Regions from separate parts of the Homo sapiens genome. Here all the other regions are linked to region 2. The links come from fine-mapping of genetic effects on gene expression. A gene starts in region 2. Each other region holds a variant in brackets. All regions are shown on one strand. Distances are between the middles of the regions. Region 1 overlaps FAM20A (FAM20A golgi associated secretory pathway pseudokinase). Region 2 holds the start of FAM20A (FAM20A golgi associated secretory pathway pseudokinase). Region 3 holds the start of LINC01482 (long intergenic non-protein coding RNA 1482). Region 4 has its middle 110 kb from the start of LINC01482.

Evidence for each region. PIP is the estimated chance that this variant, and not a neighbour inherited with it, causes the effect.
Region 1: its variant is the best candidate, but not a certain one, in a credible set for the expression of FAM20A in whole blood (INTERVAL, PIP 0.72).
Region 3: its variant is the best candidate, but not a certain one, in a credible set for the expression of FAM20A in whole blood (INTERVAL, PIP 0.55).
Region 4: its variant is the best candidate, but not a certain one, in a credible set for the expression of FAM20A in thyroid (GTEx, PIP 0.63).

Annotation. Positions count from the first base shown.
Region 1 is chr17:68,571,416-68,576,568 of GRCh38, reverse strand. All of the region lies in intron 1 of FAM20A (FAM20A golgi associated secretory pathway pseudokinase), which reads left to right. Among named protein-coding and RNA genes, the nearest start is that of FAM20A, 27 kb to the left of the region's middle. The variant AGAAGAAAG/G (reference allele first, on the strand shown) is at 3,109.
Region 2 is chr17:68,598,205-68,603,357 of GRCh38, reverse strand. FAM20A (FAM20A golgi associated secretory pathway pseudokinase) reads left to right here and starts at 1,991. Exons shown (of 11, transcript NM_017565.4): 1 at 1,991-3,095. The coding sequence starts at 2,692.
Region 3 is chr17:68,625,760-68,630,912 of GRCh38, reverse strand. LINC01482 (long intergenic non-protein coding RNA 1482) reads right to left here and starts at 2,759. Exons shown (of 5, transcript NR_110825.1): 1 at 2,727-2,759. RefSeq lists a silencer at 2,451-2,745. The variant G/AAG (reference allele first, on the strand shown) is at 1,926.
Region 4 is chr17:68,738,154-68,743,306 of GRCh38, reverse strand. No RefSeq gene overlaps it. Among named protein-coding and RNA genes, the nearest start is that of LINC01482, 110 kb to the right of the region's middle. The variant A/T (reference allele first, on the strand shown) is at 3,028.

The sequences.
Region 1 (5,153 bases), 27 kb after region 2:
CAGGTCTCTCTCCCTGGGGAGGAGGCTGGGACAGTCAGAAGGGAGCCTTGGGCTCAGGGCTGCAGCATGAGGAGCCAGGAGGTGCCAGATGGACCATGATGCAGTCAGCACGTAGGGTCATGATGAAGAGCTTGGCCTAGGAAGCCAGTCGGCCAGGTCCAAATCACTGCACTGTGCCTGCCACTCACCAGGCAGGTGACCTTGAGCTAGCTCAAGTCAGTCTCCTCATCTATAAAATGGGCTAACAATGGACCTGTCTTATGGGGCTGTTGTGAAGAGTCATGAGCCAGCACATGTGAAGTCTTCATAAAAGGTGCTGGCAGAGAGCCATGGCTCCAGAAATGGTGACAATTATTACATGTGAGGTGTGGGGGATTGAAGCAAAGAGTGCTTGAGGCAGGTATGGGGGCAGGGTCTAGAGAGCCAGAGAGGACCATGGCACTACGAATTTGGAGCTGGCTGAGCACTGGGCTTTTGTACTCTTATGGGAGCTTGTTCCATTGGCTGGCCAGACCCATTTAAAGGGCTCAGCATGCAGCCAAGTTTCAGAATTCGGGATGAGATGAAGAAGCAAGAACCTCTCTCCAGCCTAACACCATCCACTTCCCCAGGGTTAGCTCCTGGGCAAGGGAAAGGCCATTCTTAGGGGGCGCCCTTTGGACTTGGTTCTCAGAAACAGCAGTGCCTAAACATCACGCCCTGCCCGGTGGCAGCTGTAACTGCCAATGGCTGATTATGTGTGTGTGTGTGTGTGTGTGTGTGTGTGTGTGTGTGTGTATAATATAAAATATACAATATATAAAATATAAAATATATATAATATATAAAATATATAATATATAAAATATAAAATATATAATATATAATATATATAATATAAAATATAAAAATATAATATATAAATATAAAATATATATAAAATATAATATTCTATATTATATTTTATATATAATATAGAATATATTATATATAATGTATAAAATATAGAATATATTATATAATATATAAAATATATATTATATAATATATAAAATATATATTATATAATATATAAAATATATAATATCTAATATCTATAATATATAATATATAAAATATATTATATATAATATATAAAATATATAATATATAAAATATATAATATATATAAAGTGAAGACATATATATATAAAATATATATATATATGTAAAGTAAAGTGAACCTGTGTTGGCCAGGTTGGTCTTGAACTCTTGGCCTCAGGCAATCCTCCTGCCTTGGACTCTCAAAGTGCTAAGATTACAGGCATGAGCCACTGTGCCTGGCCTGCTTGTATATTTGTAAAAGCCACCAGAACACATTATTACAAACTGACTGGCCTAAAACAACATAAATTTATTGTCTTACATTTCTGGAGGCCAGAAGTCCAAGCTCAAGATGTATGCAAGGCTGTGTCCCCTCCTGAGGCTCTAGGCGAGAATCCATTTCTTATCTCTTTCAGCTTCTGGTGACTCCAGGAATTTCTTTTTTAAAAAAATATTGATACATAATAGTTGTACCTATCGACTAGTGGCCACCTCATGCCAGTCTCTGCCTCTGTGGTCACATTGCCTCATCCTCTTTTCTCTGTCTTCTTGTCTATGTGTCTGTTTTATAAGGGTTCTTGTAATTACATGTAGGGCCCACCCAAATAACCCAGGATCATCTCTCCATCTCAAGATTCTTACTTTAATCATATCTGCCAGCCCATCTGGACACATAGGGTATGTACAAGCCCAGAGATTAAGACGCAGATCTCTTTGGGGGCACCATTATTCAGCCTACCCCAGGGACCATCCTAGGGAATGCCAAATAGAGCTCTTGACTTCACCTTGGTAAGCAGAACTCAGGTAACTGGGAAATTAAGCAGAAGTTGGAAATAATTCTTCACAGTATTCCTTCCCCTTTGTAAAGGATAAAGTTACCAGTACTGAGTCCCAGAAGTCACAGTAACAATAACTCACATGATGTTACGGTTTGAATGCTTGTCTTCTCCAAAATTCATGTTAAAACTTAATCTCCAATGTGGCAATGTTGAGAAGTGGGGTCCTTAAGAGGTGATTGAGTTATGAGGGCTCTACTGTCATGAATGGATTAACTCATTTATGGATCCATGGATTAACAGATTAACGGGTTATCGTGGGAGTGGGTCTCATGGTGCTATAAGAAGAGGAAAGGAAACCGGAGCTAGCACACTCAGCCCCCTCGCCATGTGATGCCCTGCACCACCTCAGAACTCTGCAGAGGATCGCTTAGGCCTAGGAGTTTGAGACCAGCCTGGGCAACATAGGGAGATCCTGTCTCTATAAAAATAAACAAAATTAGCCGGGCATGGTGGCACACGCCTGTGGTCCCAGTTACTTGGGAGGCTGAGGTGGGAGGATCACTTGGGCCTAGAAGGTTGAGGCTGCAATGAGCCATGATAGCTCCACTGCAGTACAGCCTGAGTGACAGAGTGAGACCCTGTCTCAAAAAAAAGAACTCTAGAGAGAGTTCCCACCACCAAGAAGGGTCTCATCAGATATGCCCCTCAACCTTGGACTTCCCAGCCTCTAAAACTGTAAGAAATAAATGTGGTCAGGTGTGGTGGCTCACACCTGTAATCCTAGCACTTTGGGAGGCTGAGGCAGGCGGATCACCTGAGGTCAGAAGTTCAAGACCAGCCTGGCCAACATGGTGAAACTCTGTGTCTACTAAAAATACCAAAAAAATTAGCTGGGCTGGGCATGGTGGCTGGCACCTGTATTCCCAGCTACTTGGGAGGCTGAATCACTTCAACCCAGGAGGCAGAGGTTGCAGTGAGCCAAGATCACACCACTGCACTCCAGCTTGGGCGACAAGAGCTTAACTCTGTTGAAAGAAAAAAAAAGAGAAAAGAAAGAAAGAAAAGAAAGGAAGAAAGGAAGAAAGAAAGGAGGGAAGGAGGGAGGGAAGGAAGGAAGAAAAGAGAGAGAAAGAAAGGAAAGAAAGGAAGGAAAGAAGGAAAAGAGAAAGAGAGGGAAAGAAAGGAAAGAAAGGAAGGAAGGAAGGAAAGAAGGAAAAGAGAAAGAGAGAGAAAGAAAGGAAAGAAAGAAAGAGAAAGAAAGAAAGAA[AGAAGAAAG/G]AAAGAAAGAAAGAAAGAGAAAGGAAAGAAAGGGAAAGGGAGAAGTGTTATTTCTTATAAATTGCCCAGTTTCAAGTATTTTGTTATAAAGCAACAAAAAACAGGCTAAGAAACATAAACTTTAATTCATTTAATCCTCACTAAAATTCTATAAGGTGGGTACATTTATTATCCTGACTTTTCACATGAGGTGAGGCGCAGAGAGGTTAGATAACTTGCCCTAGGTCACACAGCTGTGAGTGGCAGAGCCAGGACTCGGGATGAGGGATCTGCCTCTCCCACCCTTTCCCCTTTCTAGATTCACAAACCCATCACTAATGGTGACTCTGATTTACAGATACAGCAGCATTTACCACCTATCACCTGCTCCTTAAAATCAAGCTTTGATTCATGAGCTAGCTGAAGCAGATAATCTTTCAGGGCTGGAAGGACAGCCTCCAAAGCGGGGGTGCATTTCTCTTTGGGGAGGTGACATGAGAAGGAATTGGGAGCTCACTTTGGGGTCTAGCAGATCACTGCAGCTCCGGCCCACTCACATTGCCTCAGAGCTTTGTTTGGACTTCCCTTGGCCTCTAGGACACAGAGATAAATGGGCGAGGAGGCAGATGAACAGAAAGGGAAGCAATGAGAAATATGTTTTTTGAGCCCATGAGATGGAGCGGTGGGAAGAAGTCAGTCAACAATTCTTAAAACAAAAATAAATAAATAAATAAATAAAATTAAAAAGAAAACAGAAACAATTCTTCAGCCTGCTTATGACAACCCATAGAATTCTGATGATGAGTCAGCTCGTTCTGCTGAAGATGCATTTTGGGGAGAGTTGATCGTTCTGCATAATTCTATCATGAACACAGGCAGCCGGCACAAACGCAGTGCTGAGGTTTCAGAAATGAAGCCCATTCCAACAGTGAACACCAAAAAGCCATTTCCAAAAGCCCATGCCCTTCTTGGCCCAGTTACTACTACTCAGTGTTACTGCTCTGATGGTCTCATACTCAGAAACTGGTTAGAAGAATCAAGAAAGTCCATTGGATAAGGACCCAGACTTAATGTCTCTGAAAGTGCTCAACAAATACGCCTGGATTGTGAATTGCACAATTGCCTGTCAGAGGCAGATTTACCATGAAGCTGATGAAGCCTCAGCCCACTTCCCCTCACTTCCCCTGTGGGTGCTGAATGCTGTGGAGTTGAGAAGGGAGCCAGGTTATGATCAAGAAATATTTCTACATACAGCTGGGCACTGTGGCTTACACCTGTAATCCCAGTACTTTGGGAAGTCAAGGCAGGTGAATGGCTTGAGCCCAGGAGTCCAAGACCAGCCTGGGCAACATGGAAAAACCCTGTCTCTACAAAGAAATAAAAATAAAAATAATAGCCAGTTGTAGTGGAATGCACCTATATTCCCTGCTACATATATATATATATATATATATATATATATATATATATATATATATATATATATGTATGTATATACACACACATATATATACACACACACACATATATATATTTCTACATAAGTTTGATATCTCAGAAAAAAGCCTTCAAGTCACCAGTAATTTATTGATTCTTTTTCATTCTAAATAAACCTTTACTCTCATACCTGGTTTTGTATTCGTAATTTTGTACTCTTTTGCTTAAAGATGGTCCTCCAAATTGTATTAGCTTCAGGTCTCACAAAACCTGAATCCTTCCGTGTCACAGGAGAAATAGAACAGTATGAAGGAGGATTCTTCCAAATTCATCACAGCCATGGGGAAAAAAAAGAAAAACAACCTTGAGAAAATGTTCTTTCTAGGACCCACGTCAAGGATAAGAACACTGAAAGAGACATATGGATCAAACAGATGCAAGATTTAATTTAAAAGCCGAGTGCTATAGAAGTTCACTATAATGCTTTTCTAATTGTCTGTGTGACAGAGTGCTCTTGGAAATGTATTAAATGAGTGAGACCAACCTTATGAACTCCATGGATAGAATTCAAGTGCAATTCCTGTGTCCAAGGGATTTTCTTCCTCAAGTTTTGATACTAGT
Region 2 (5,153 bases):
TGACCTTTAAAGGGCATGGAAAATATGTTTACATAATTTCCAAGCAAGTTACACTATTGTTCCCTAAATTGGGGCCAGAAAAAAAAGAGTCTACTAAGCGAGTATGACCCCATGGGTTGAGGAGAATTGAAGTCACAAGACCTGCAGTGTCACCACATCCACGTCCTTTGCCAGCCGAGAAAAATGCGCATCAGTTTGCCACACAGTTACTGCAGTTACATCACCACCATTCAATGCCTGACTTCTTCATTCGCTTGCCATGACATCTAATTAAACACATTAGAAGTTGCAACGTCTCTCAGAAATTGGAAATCAGTTAAAATTTAATTCCAGATAAAAAGGAGGAGGTTCTAGAACCCCTCAAAATGCCCACCATCATACCCAGAGGAGTGGAGTAGCTGGGAATAGTACCGTCTTGGGCTTTTTCACTTGGACTGGGCACTCAGGCCACAATGTTATGCCCCTGAAAGCAGGTTCCTTCCTGCTATCTTCCTTTTCCATCCTTTTCTATTTTTGTCCTAGCGATGAGCAGTCTCTAACCAAGCCTAGTGTACTACAGGAACTAATAAGTAATCATAATGATAGCAAACACATATTTCACACTTATTTAGGATGAGTTAGGAGCTCTTCTAAGTAATTTATACATAGTCAAGTGCCACATAACATTTTAGTCAATGCAACAGTGGTCCCATAAGATTACAATACTGTATTTTTACTGTATGTTTCCTATGTTTAGACACACAAGTACTCACCACTGTGTTACAACTCCCTACAGCATTCAGTAGTCGCATGCTGTACAGGTTTGTACCTAGGATCAACAGGCTATGCCATGTAGCCTCCGTGTGTAGTAGGCTGAACCATCTAGGTTTGTGTAAGTACACCCTGATGTTCACACACACAGGAAAATTGCCTAAGGATGCATTTCTCAGACGTGACACATAATTGTACTTCAATTCATTTAAGTCTCATAATAACCTTAGGAGGTAGGTTCCATCATTATCTTCATTTACATTTGAGGAGACTGCAAAGTCCCGAAGAAATCTTACACTGAACCACGGGGAAAAGAACTCTGGTCTGAACCCACAAGTCAAAGTATGTCTGAGGGTTCTCAATTCCAGCAAGGGAAGGGAGGGGGTTAAAGAGTAGAACTAACTTACATGGGAAGCTTTGCTGCCTGGGCAAGCAGCTTCTGGTGGATTTCCTGAAATTCAGCAGGGTGGGGCCGCCTCTCCAATCAGACTTCACTTTACTATACTATGGGGTCATTAAATAGAGGAGCCAGGAGTTCAGGACTCCCTCCCTCTTCTTCAAAAGGAAAACTGGGTGTGGGGAGGGTACATTACCTCACAGAATATTGGAGAAAGCCTAAATGTGTCCTCCAGTGATTCATTTGGGTGGACTACTTTCACACCAAGCTAAACTCAAAAGTTCGGAGTGGGGTCATCAGGGCCCCTCCCTCCCTGAGTGCAAGAAACATTTCCTCTTTTTAAAGTACAGGCAGAGTTGGAATCAAACTCCTTCCAAACAGGAAATCAGCAAGATTCTAGGTAAAACTGATACCTTACTTTTAAAGGTCAAGCTCTTTCCTTCACCAAGAGCGTGTTTCCTGAGCACCTACTATGTGCCAGGCATGTGGTAGGTAGTTGTTATGAATCTTGATGTGCCCTGCGCTCTGCAGGGGGGCGGAGGTGGAAGGGAACACAAAGAAAGAACAGATACCAACACTGCCACCCCCGCCTCCCCCCACCCCCCCCCACACACTCATTTGGCAAAGCTTACAGGAAAAAAAGGGTTTTAGGGGGCTTGTGGTGGTTTTTTTTTCCCTAAAAATAATAGAAATGGTAAAAAGAGGCTTCGGACCCCTCGCGTGAGTCCCTTAAAGTGACTGGATTGAGACCTGGGCAGGGAAAGTGGGAGGCCCGAGCGAGGGGGAGGGCGCAGGCAGTGGGTGGGTGACAAGGTGCAAGGGCAGCGCCGGCTTCGGATCGGGAGTTGGCCGTCAGCTGCGCCAGAGGCAGGTGCCAGCGGAGAGTGGGTGGGGGTGCCGGCGCCAGGCCAGGCTCGGGGAGGCCCCGCGCTACCTCTGCCTCTAGGAGTCCAGGCGCACAGACAAGCTCCCCGGAGCCGCTCCTGCTTCGCCAACTCCCCACTCGCGCCGCCCGTGCCAGCCGCCGGCACTGGCGTCTCCGCCGCCCGCAGGAGGAGTCGCGGGAGCACTAGCAGCCGCCGCCGAGCGACAGCATCCTCAGGAGAGACGCCCCGGGCTTTGCAGCCGGCGGCCTCCGTCCGCCCTCCGCGGTCGCCCCCCGCCCCGTCGCCCGTCCGCCCGCGGTGGCAGCCGGCGCCGGCGCCCCGGGGCCCTTCACCTGCCGCGAGCGTCCGGGCGGGCGGGCGCACGGGAGAAAAGGCGCAAGAAGCGGGCACCCCGGGAACCCCATTCCCTCGGCTCACTCGGCGCGGAGAAGCGACGCCCGCTGACTCCGAGAGCCCCGGTGCTCCGTGCACCTGGTCCCCAAGTTGAGGAGCGACACCCCTCCACAGGGGACTAGCCCGCGCGGGGAGCATTCCGGTCTCACTGACCCCGGCCCACCCGCGGGACTCCAGGCACCTCTTCTGCCCGCACCCCGCGACCCCTCCCGGGACCCCGGAGACAGCCGGCCTGCCCCCGGCGTCCCCCTTGGCCAGCACGCCATGCCGGGGCTGCGCCGGGACCGCCTACTGACTCTGCTGCTGCTGGGCGCGCTGCTCTCCGCCGACCTCTACTTCCACCTCTGGCCCCAAGTACAGCGCCAGCTGCGGCCTCGGGAGCGCCCGCGGGGGTGCCCGTGCACCGGCCGCGCCTCCTCCCTGGCGCGGGACTCGGCCGCAGCTGCCTCGGACCCCGGCACGATCGTGCACAACTTTTCCCGAACCGAGCCCCGGACTGAACCGGCTGGCGGCAGCCACAGCGGGTCGAGCTCCAAGTTGCAGGCCCTCTTCGCCCACCCGCTGTACAACGTCCCGGAGGAGCCGCCTCTCCTGGGAGCCGAGGACTCGCTCCTGGCCAGCCAGGAGGCGCTGCGGTATTACCGGAGGAAGGTGGCCCGCTGGAACAGGTGAGGACCCCGCCCGGGACGCGGGAGAGCGGGCGCTCTGGCCGGGGCCTCCCCGCGCCCCAGTCTCGAGTTTCCTGACGCCCCCGGCCCAGGGCTGCAGCGGCTCCACCCACGGCTCCAGCCCTGGCGCTGGGCTTAGAGTGTGTTCCCCACCCGAACCCCACCAGCTGTTGCAGACCTCACAGTCCAGTCCCGGAGTCAGATAGTACGAGGAAAAAGTTTCTATTGCAGCCGCACAGCGAAGAAACGCTCTCAGCCCCTTCCCCTTGAGCGCCTGGGTCGTCGTTGAGCCCCACTCCTGCTCCCTCGTCCACTCCCGCTCCCTCGTCCGCTCCCAAACCCCACTCTCTGTCCTGATGTGGAGGAAAGCTGCCGCTGGACTTCGGGTTTCCAGAATGAGGCCCCAAACAGGGTGACTCCAGAGCTAGTTGAAATTCAGCACTTAACTGTGCTCTTTGGGTAAACCTGGGCGCCTTCCAGAAAGCATGTTTCTCCCCAAAACCCAGTTCTTTCCCTTTCCTTATTCCTCTGCCCAGTTTCAGAGATCACAAGGGGGTCATCTGAGGCAGGAAGTAAATGGTCAGTTCTCTGCCGCAGCCACCCCATTGTTCACATTTAAAACGCGGCTTGGGCCCATCCAGCAAGTATTAGAACTTGAAGGCACTTTTATCGTCTTGTATGATCCTGGTGATTTGGACTGACTTGGATCTGCGGCTTGATGCTTCCACAGACGAGAAAAAAATCTTTCAGGGAATTTTTTAAACCCAAAGCAAAATACAGAGGAAAAAATATCAAATATATTTAGGATAAAATTAAGAATCTTTCTGGAAAAGGATGGGGGTGTTAGGGAAGGCAGCACGCTCATTACTGAGATCCCTTGCTAGTGGCAGGAAGCCTTCGTATGAGTTAAGGACTCTGTTTTGAAGTACAGAACTTGTCTAAATACCACTCACATGCAGAGTTCACTATCGCACCACACCCATCTCTTTACTTAATACAAGAGATTTCAAAGTAAGATGTCATCGGTGGTTTTATGGTCCCTCCAGAGGATGAGCAGACCATAAATCTCTCTTGAAACTCAGAGCTGGGCCAATTTAACTGTTTGCTCATTATTTTGTAATGCTGAGATTGAAGGGAGAAAAAAAAACCTTCAGAAATTTTTGCAAAGGAATAAGTTGAGTTGTTGGCTGAATCACTGTGGTGAATTTCAGTAGTAACTCTACGGCTCACATTTTATGTTAGAAAGAAAGTGATTCTCAATTCCACGTTAACTGTGTGCAGTAATAAAAGGCAGTTTGAGATTGCTTCTCAGACACTGTCATTTTCAATATTATCTTTATTTCGTCAATAACATGGAAGTCTGGCTTAGTGAACCAGGAAATTTTGCCCTTAGAAAAAGTATCTATATGTCTACTATGGATCTGAGAATGAGAGACTTTGGACAAAGTCACTTGCTTTTGTAAATGTGATCAGCATTCATTTAGTCACATTTCTGTGGTCTTAAACTTCCCGGTGTTACTTTGGACCCGAAGCAAAGTCCAGGGGAATATTATGGCAGAAAAGCAAAAATCTTTCTCACCAAACTGTTCTACAATCAGTTTTAAGCTTGATTTCTACACCATTATGTGTCAACAAAGACAAAAAAAACTCGCAAAAACACACATACTTTCTGACCAGAAATGATCTTGGTCATTTAACAGAAGATCAAGTGGGGGCTGGTGACCTTACTATATTCAGAGATCACAGAGTAGTTTTGTGTGGTTGCTCAAATGTGACATTTTCCCAAGTAAGGTTTGTGGGCCACAACAGGAGGACCCGCTGCACTTATAAATGTTAAAACTGGACCTCAGAGGCAGAGAACACTCTCCTTCCACCCAAACTGGATAGTAAATGTTAACATGAACATATTAATAAGCAGATGTGTTGTTACTTATATCAGGGTTAAAAATGAAACACAAGGCCGGGCAGGGTGGCTCACACCTGTAATCGCAACATTTTGGGAGGCAGAGGCAGAGGGAGGATCACTTGAGCCCAGGAGTTCAAGATGAGCTTGGGCAA
Region 3 (5,153 bases), 28 kb before region 2:
TATTTTCTACTTATTGAGAAGACTTTTGTACTTATATTTAGTGACTGTCATAGAATTACTCTTGTGTCTTCATGAGAAAGAGAATATAAGAGAAAGAAAAATTCAGTCTGAATGTTCACATTGCATGCCTATATCAAAGTATCTCATGCATCCCACAAATATAGATGCCTACCATGTACCCACAAAAATTAAAAATTAAAACAAATTTAGTTCTGCCTGGCTGACAGTAACTGCAAGATGCATTTCTAATTTCAGAGATGTTAAAATATGAAAAATAGGCATCTTTAAGGAATGATATATAACATTTTTTTAAACTTCCCAACAGCCCTGCGAAACAATGATTGTTTTTACAGAAGAGGATGCCAAAATTTAATTAGATAAAATTGCTTCCTTAAAGTCACACATCTAGTTAAGACAGAACAGATACTTGGCTCCAGGTTCCTCTGACTCTACAACCAAAGCACATAACTCCTGCATGTTCCTGCCTCTCAGGTCAGTATGGTTATCCTCATTGCCGGCATCACTGACACCCTTATCAACATTGTCACAGACACAACCATCGCTGTTGTCACCACTATCATTCCTGTCACCACTATAATTACCATGGTTTTATCATTGTCACTGCCACCATAATTGTTGTTGTCAACATCATCATCATCATAGCTAATATTTACTGAGCATGTACTATGTGCTAAGCTCTGTGCTAAGGGCTTTACATGGTTTGCCTCATAACTACCCTATAGGTAGGTTTATCATTACCCTATTCTACAAATATTAATAGTGAGGCTCAATAAGATTAACTAATTTGTTCTAAGTTATTCAGCTGAGGTCTGAATAGCAGGGTTGAATTCAAATCCACTGACTATAGAAACCACACGCAGTATCTGACTATAGAAACTACTACAAGCCGGGCGCTGTGGCTCATGCCTGTAATCCCGGCACTTTAGGAGGCCGAAGCGGGTGGATCACATACGCTCAGGAGTTCGAGATCAGCCTGGGCAACATGATGAAACCCTGTCTCTACAAAAAAATACAAAAACTAGCCAGGCATAGTGATGTGTGCCTGTGGTCTCAGCTACCCAGAGGGCTGACATAGGAGGACAGCTTAAGCCCAGGAGGCAGGGAGGGATTGCAGTGAGCAGAGATCACACCACTGCACTCCCACCTGGGTAATAGAGCGAGACTCTGTCTCAAAAAACAAGAAAAGAAAAGGAAGTACTACTGTGTACGCTATTAAATACAGTATACAGCAAATCATAGGGCCTCAGTAAGTGATGTATATACTTGTGCCTAACCCAGTGACTGGCATATAGGCAATAAACAATTACAAAAGCACCACCAATGATCGAAGCTAATGTTCATTGAGCAATTACTATGTGCCAGTCATGATGTTAAATGCTTCACAGTTTATTGCTGTTAGTCCTCATATTACCCTTATGAGGTAGGTACAATTTTTATCCTCAGTTTACAGGTGGGGACATTGAAGGGTAGAGAAATTAAGAAAGTGTTCAAGGTTGCACTATCAGTGAATGACCCAGCCATAGTTCAAACCCAAACAGTGTCATTTAAAAGCCCATGTTTTTGATTACCATACAATATTGTCTCCTACAAGAAATGTTATGAGCGAATTTGTTTTCATTGATTCACCCCACAAATATTGTCTGAGTACATACCATAGGTCATGTGTTTGCCAAGTGCTATAGATATAATACAGAATAAAAAAAAAGATAGACCTTTCCTCCATGGAAATTACAGTGTGGAGAAAGTACCAATAAAAACAAAAGCTACGAAGACCATGTAGATACAGGGATGTTCAATCTTTTGGCTTCCCTGGGCCACATTGGAAGAAGAAGAATTGTCTTGGACTACACATAAACTACACTAACACTAACATTACTTGATGAGCTACTGAAAAAAAAAAAAAA[G/AAG]TCCATGCACAAATCTCGTAATGTTTTAAGAATGTTTATGAATTTTGTGTTGGGCTGCATTCAAAGCCATCCTGGGCCACATGTGGCCTGTGGGCTGCAGGTTGGACAAGTTGATGTAGAAAGATGGCGATATTAATAGAACACTCATATTTACATCCTACCCTTCCCAAAACTCCACTAAGAAGATGCTGAGATGGTAATGATGATGACTAATATTTATTGAATGTTCTCTGGGTGCCAGACGTTAATCTGGGCACTTTACATGTGTTGTCACTTTCCAACCTTATAACAATCCATTTTACAATTGAAGAATCTAAGGCAAAGAGAGGTTAAATAACTTGTCCAAAGTCACATAGTTAGTATGCGGCAAAGCAAGTGTAAGAATCTAAAGCTTGTGCTTTAATGCATCTCTTTCCACAGTAAAGGAGAAAAAAATACATAAATTCTCACAAACAGAGACATCAGGACAAGAGATGTCCTGAATGGGAAAGATAAACAGTTTTGAGGAAGGAGAAACAGGGCAGAGGGAGTAACTTCTTTAGCAGGGCAGAGAAAGCTGTGAATAAAAGCAGAGGGCTGAGAATAGACCTGCCTCTCCCCACCACAGAGAGTCAGAGAAACTCATAAGCTGGGGACATCTGATATCACAGAGTGTAGGAGGGGGACACAAGAGCAACCCTGGAGGCTAAGATGGAATTCAGTATTTATAACAGTCAGCACCTTCACCTACTCCCACACACAGAGTGCCAGAAACCAGGAACTGACCCTCCACCCCAAGGAGAGGTTGGCAGGGAGACTTACCAGCTTCCCGTATCTCCCTCCACATGGAGGCAGGACACGCTCTGGCCTTGCCCACCCTCCCACTAGCCTCTCCCACAGGGCAGTAAAGGTGAGTCTGGGAGAAAGAACCGGTCAGACTTAGTTCAGCTCCACCCTTTCCTCCTGGGAGTGAGTCTTTCCAAGACAGAGCATGTTTTTTTCTACCCCTCAGTGAGAACAGTCGTACCATGGGAGGAGTCCTGTCCCAGTTCAGCATTGCCCGTGATTGGCTGCCTAAGTTTCCCAGTTCTGGGGTTGAGTTTGCAGGCCCACTGGACTCTTAGACTAAACTGCATCCTCTACCTGACTCTTCAATTGTTTAATAAAAGTGGTTTCTTGGTCTTTCATCTGCCTTACCTCTTTTCCCACATTATTTCTCAATATGCCAAAGTTTGGGTTAATTTTTTAAAAAGGAGAGACAAAGGGAGGAAGAAAGAGAAAGACAGAGCCAGAAAGGGAGAAAAGAAAGAAAGAAAGAGAGAGAAAGAGAAAGAGAAAGGGAAAGGAAAGGAAGGGATTTGTGCTAAATGTCATCCTTGGAGAGATATGAGAAGATAATGCATCCATAAAACAACCTTAACATAACATCCTTGGAAAGATATGAGAAGATAATGTATCCATAAAACAAGAATTTATTAATCAGTGAGGAAAGAAGAGCTCTTAATAAATAAAGCTAGAGCACGCAAAGTAAAAATTTCTATGGAACTTTATCTTTCCATGAATATAAAGTTCATCCCAGTTTCCTTCCCACAAAGATAGCAAATAGAGATCAGGAAATAAAAATTATGGGCAAAAGCAAGACATGAGAGAAAGGATTAACCCAGAAAACCTAACAGTCAAATAACAGGAATAGAAGTTTCCGTTCCAGACAAACAGAAAACAGGTAAAGAAAAATACACACACACACACACACACACACACACACACATTTATACACATACATACAGGAGTAAAAGCTAGCAGCCTGTAGACTGAAAGAATATACAAGGAAGCCAGCATCAGAAGGAAAAATAGAGCTAAATTATCACAGAACTTTACAAATCATGAATAAATAAAAGATCTTAAAAAGATCTTAGAGGCCAAGCGTGGTGGCTCATGCCTGTAATCCCAGCACTTTGGGAGGCTGAGGTGGGTGGATCACGAGGTCAGGAGTTTGAGACCAACCTGACCAACATGGTGAAACCCCGTCTCTACTAAAAATACAAAAATTAGCCAGGTGTGATGGCACATGCCTGTAATCCCAGCTACTCAGGAGGCTGAGGCAAGAGAATTGCTTGAATCCAGGAGGTGGAGGTTGCAGTGAGCCAAGATTGCGCCACGGAACTCCAGCCTGGGCGACAGAGCAAGACTCTGTCGCAAAAAAAAAATAATAATAATAATTTAGAGGGAAAAAATGGTGGAGGAAATGCTAAAGTCAGACTTCTCAGCCTCAATATTGAAGAGGATCTTTACAAAGTATTATGAAACTATTACCAAGACACATTGCTCACTGAAAAGCGCAAGGTGCAGAACAATGCACTTAGTGTGCTACCAAGTGTGTTAAAAGAGAAAAAACAAAGAGAAGAGAAAACAAGGGAAGAGAGATGCTTGAGTGTGCGCAGACTATTCCCGGAAGTATATAAAAACTGGTAGAAATAATACATGGACATGTACTATTCGAAGTTTTTTGTCATGGATTGGGGGCCAGGCGCGGTGGCTCACGCCTGTAATCCCAGCACTTTGGGAGGCTGAGGCGGGCAGATCACGAGGTCAGGAGATTGAGACCATCCTGGCTAACATGGTGAAACCCCGTCTCTACTAAAAAAAAAAAAAAAATCACACACACAGAAAAATGGATGGGATAAAGATGGCATACAACCTTGGACTATGTCCACGATAAAACATCCAGGAGCCTGGCGCGGTGGCTCATGCCTGTTATACTAGCACCTTGGAAGGCCGAGGCGGGTGGATCGCTTCAGCTCAGGAGTTCAAAACCAGCCTGGGCAACATGGTGAAACCCTGTCTCTGCAAAAAAATACAAAAATTAGCCAGGCATGGTGGTGAGCACCTGTAGTCCCAGCTACTCAGAAGGCTGAGATGGGAGAATGACTTGAGCGTGGGAGGCAGAGGTTGCAGTGAGCCATAATTAAGCCACTGAACTCCAACCTGGTGACAGAGTGAGACCCTGTCTCAAAAAAAAAAAAATTAGGAAAAAATACATTATATAAAATTTGTGTATGTGATGATTACAACTACCATAGTGTCACTGATTGTAAGATGCACATTTTGTTCACACATCTCTGAAATTATGCTATGTATTAAAATCAACAGTGCGCTATCCATCTTATGACAGATCATATTGGCAGATCATATTGGCAGGAGTGTTTCTTATTTGGGGAACATAAAATAAAAGGTATCTTACCATTAATG
Region 4 (5,153 bases), 140 kb before region 2:
TTTGGCAGACGAAATGTTTTATTTCTATTGTTTATATATCAAATAATGTAATTGATGGGTAGTAGGGCATGCATATATTCATAGGTTTAATAGATATAGACAAACAGCTTTTCAAAGTGGTTATATAAATTTACACTGACTAGTATTGTATGAACATTCCATTTACTCCAAGTTCTCAACACTGCTTAGTAACCAAAACACAGGGTCAGTCACTCACCACCAGCAGAGTCTAACTAACAAGAGTGAGGTCTGGTATAAAGAAAGTGACTTTTTATTCCTAAAGTAGTATAGGGGAAGTACAGGCTTCCTGCCTTAAGTATCCTTAACGGTACTGCTTCACTTTTGCAGCAGAAAGTGGGTGCTTTTAAAGAGGGAGTCTATGCAGAGGTGGAAATGAACAAGTCGGGGCCTGCATATCACATTGGTGCCTTACCTATCGGGCAGTAGAGTTGGCATTTTCATGGGCAGAAATAGGTTGTAAAGGTGGCTGAAAACTCTCTGGGTGGGAGAGAGTTTTGTAGCAAACATACTTTGGGTTATGAGTTGACTATTATCTCTCAAGGCAGTCTCCTGGTGGGTGAGAGTTCCTCTCTGGAGCTTCTAAGCACATAGTTACATGAACTTGATCTGCAGCAAGTATCTGGTGAGGGGAGGTAAGAGGTTATAATTGCATTTCTAAAGGGCTAAGTAGGAAGTCAGGAATGGGGGAAATAGAGTAAACAGAAATGAAGAGAAAACAATTTTTAAAAATAGTAACTCATTCTCTTTTTTCTTAGAAAAAATAATATTGCCTTTTGTACTAGGTTACACTAATGACAGTTAAATAATAATGTTGCATGTCGTACTAGGTTACGTTTTTGGTTTTTTTAATTTGGGCCATTTGGGTGTCTAATAGTATCTCATGTAGTTTTAATTTGCATTTTCCTGATGACTAATAACGTTGAACATTTTTTCTTTGTTGAATGTCCAGTTAAATAGTCTCTTTGGGAAGTAATTTGTTTACCCTTTTTTTTGAGTTTTTTTCCTTAATGATTTGTAGAAATTCTTTATAGATACTAGATATAAGTCCTTTGTTAGATATATATTTCAAATTTCTTTTCCCAGTAAATGAGTTTTCTCTTTTATTATAGCATCTTTTGAAAAACAGCAATATTTTATTTTCATGAAGTCCAATTTATCAAATATTCTTTCCTTTCGTTTATTGTGAATCCTGTTTAAAAACTACTATCCACCCTAAGTTTAAGTATTTTCTCTTTTTTATAGAAGTTTATTGTTTTACCTTTTATATTTTCTAGAACTGATTTTCCTATTTGGTGTGAGTAAGCAATCGAGATTATTATTCCCATGTGAATATCTAATTGATTCAGCAACATTTATTAAAAATGTCATCTGTCTGTGATGCTGTAACGTCGTTGTAAATTAGGTGACTGTATATGTATGGAATTGTTTTTGCACACTCTTCTCCTCTACCATTGGTATACCCTTAAATCAATAACATTCTTCTATATTTACTGTAACCTCATAATAATATTATCTGTAGTGTAGAGCCTCCAACTCTATTCTTCAAGATCATCTTTAACATGGTTGGTCACTTGCTTGTCTATATAAATTTTAAAATTAGTTTGTCAATTTAAAAAAAACTTCAAAGATTTGATAGGATATTGGATGTATAAGTTGGTTTGGTGAGCATTACCATCTTTACAATATTTAATCTATGACTATAATATGTTTTTCCATTTATTTAGAGTATTACTAATTTCTCTTGAAAATTGTAGTGTGTTAGAATTGTGGGTCCCCCAGCCCAAAAGATATTTCCACCCAAAACCTGTGAATGGGACTTTGAAACAGGAGAGTTCCCTGATCGCCCTCACAAGACATATAACAGGGGTGTGGCTCCCCTCTTTGGTCTCTGCCACTGCTCACACCCCTGACAGGAGCAGGAGCACACAAACAGGTAGGTGCAAGAGCCGGGGTGAGTGCTTTGGGCTCTGGCCCCATGGTGGCATCTAGGGGTGGGTGTCTGAGGCCCCAGTGTTACAGTGCTCTTATAGCCTTGCCATCCACAGATGGCTTAAGTGTTAACCAGCTCAATGGACACCTCTGCCTTTTCACAAGGGCAGAGGGCCAATGTGACAGCTTTCTTTATCCTCAGCTCTTGCCCAGCATCCCAGAAGAATCAGGTCACACATAGGCTTGAGGGATGAACATGGAGTTTTACTGAGTGCTGGAGGTGGCTGTCAGTGAGTTGGATAGGGAGCTGGAAGGGGGATGGAGTGGGAAGTTGATCTTCTCCTGGAGTTTGGCCATCTAGTGGCCAAACTCTTCTTCAACCAAACCCAGCCGGACTCCTCTCAGTGTTTAGACGTTCCTTCTCTTCTCTGCTTCTCTGTCATGCCATTCCACCATTCATCTGCTTGTCTCCTCATCTCCTTGTCTCCTCATCTGCTCATCTGTCTGCTTGTCTGCTTGTGGAGCCTGGGATTCGGAGTTTATATGGGTACAGGATAGGGCGTGTGGAGGGCCAAAAGGCAACTTTTTGGGTGTGAAAACAGAAATGCCTGTTCCCACTTAGGGCCACGGGTCTCCAGGCTTGAGGGTTGTGCCTTTGCCAGGGAACCACCCTCTTCTACCCAGTGTTTCCCTTTCTCCTGTTCATGTCATACTTATCAGGAAAAGAGTCTTTGTAGATATAACTAATGTTAAGGATCTTGACATTTAAAATTTTTCGAGATCATCCTGGGTCTAGCATAAGTCTTAAATCTAATGTCAGGTGTCCTGATAAGAGAAAAGCAGGAGATTTCTCTCACACACACACACACACACACACACACACACACACACACACACACACACACACACATACGGGAGAAGGCTATGTGAAGATGGAGGAAGAGATTAAAGTCATGCAACCAAGGAATGCCCGGAGCCACCAGAAGCTGGAAGAGGCAGGGAAAGAGTTCCCCCTGGAGACTCCAGAAGGTGGATGTCCCTGCCAACATGTTGGCTCAGACTTCTGACCTCCATAAC[A/T]GTAAGAGAATAAATTTCTATTGTTTTAAGGCACTAATTTGTGCCTTAAAAGGCACTAATTTGTGGTAATTTGTTACAGCAGACCTATGAAACTAATACAATAATTTTTATGGTGTTCTATGCAAAGATAATAAAATCTCGTTTAGACATATTTCTAGATTTTTTAAGTTATTGGTGTGACTGTAAGAGGTGTCATTTAAAATTTTTCATTTGTAATTATTGGTACTGTATAAAAATACAGTTGATTTTTCTATGTTGACCTTTTATCCATCAACCTTGCTAAATTTACTTATTAATTCTAATTGTTTGCTAGTAGATTCTTTTGAATTTTGTACATGCACAAATAGTGTTTATATATGTGGCTTCCTCAAATAGTAATTGTTTCATTTATTCATCTGCCATTTTTAAAGGCTTTTTTTTTTCATTGCTTTATTGCACTGACCTTCTATGCCATACTGAAAATAGGTGGTATTTGTAAGCATCCTTATCTTGCCCCTGATCTCAGCGGGAAAGCTTTCAATATTTCACCATTAAGCAGGATGTTTGCTATAAGTCCTTTATAAATAACCTTTATCAAATTTAAAAAGTTCCCTTTGTTTCCTAGTTTGTAAGGTGATTTTTTATCATGAATAGGTGTTGAATTTTATCAAATATTCTTTCTGCATCCAATGAGATTATTATGTTTTTTAGTCTTTATTCTGTTAACATGGTGACTTACATTATTTGATTATCAAATGCTAAACCAAATTTGCATTCCAGGAGGCAAATTTGCATGATGTGTTACCTTATACGTCACTGGGTGTGATTTGCTAGTATAATGTTTAAATTTTTACATATTTTTGTAAGAGAGATTGGCCTATAGTTTTCCTTTCTAGCCAAGTTTTTGGTATCATTCTTTTACAAAATGAAAATGAATAACCTCCAATTTTTTTAATCTACAAAATTCTTTCTCAAAATGTCTATATTTCATCTTCACTTATTAAGGGATAGTTTTTCTGGGTGTAGTTTTCTATATTAGCACCTTTTTCCTTCGGCACTTTAAACTTATCATTTTATTATCTTCTGGCTTCTATAGTTTATGTTGAAAGACAGCTTTTGGCCATATAATTTCTCCTTTGAATATAATATGTCTTTTTTCTCCAGCTGCTTCTAACATTTTTTTACTTTCTTGGTCTTTCTGCAATTTTAATAGGTTGGGCTGTCTTTACATTTACTTCGCTTAGTGTAAGAGATTCTTCAATTTGTGAATTGATGCCTTTTGTCAACTTGGAAATTATCAACCAGCATCTTTTCAAATACTGTTTCTCCCTAACACCATTTCTCCTCTTTTTCTGGCACTCCAATTACACATGCTAGCCAATTTCAGAAATTTTCATAGGCTTCTTATACTTTTTCTATATTTTCCATTCTTTATTTTAGTATCTGTGCTCCAATCTGGGTATTTTAAAAGAGAATTTACTAGCCATTTCTTCTTCTGTGTCTAATCTGCTATTAAATCCATTTATTAAATTCTTCATTTCTTATGTTATTTTTTAACCTATAAATTTCTACGTCTTTTTATCCACAATAAAATCATTTCCAATTCTCTAGTGAAATTCTCTATATGTTCATTTGTTTTTTAACATATTTATAATATTTATTTTAAAGTCTGTGTCTCACTACTGTCTGTTTTTCCTCTTAGGACTGGGTTGATTGGCCGTGCTTCCTGGTATATCAGGTCATTTTAATTGACTGTCAGACATTGTATGTAAAAACTACAGTGGTTCTAGGTGATGTTATCTTTCTCCAGAGATGATTAATTTTCTTCTGGCAAGCAAATATGGTTAGTCTCATCACCTTGATCCAACAAGGGATGAAAATCATGTGTTTTCATCCAACAACGGATGAAAGCTCTGTTTCAGGCTTTGTGAGAGCTGGTCAATTTCTGGTCACCTTAATCCTAGTGCATAGCACCTGATGAGGCTCAACTAAAAGCCTAGGATGTTCGCCAGGCCCCTCCTCCTTGGCAAGCTCTGAATTTCAATGTTTGTCTCTCCAGCAGTGAGACTGCTGAAACCTCTGCTTAGCTTTTTATCTTCTAAGCTACTATTTTCTGCTTGTTTTTTTAGATCAGCGCTCTAGGCATG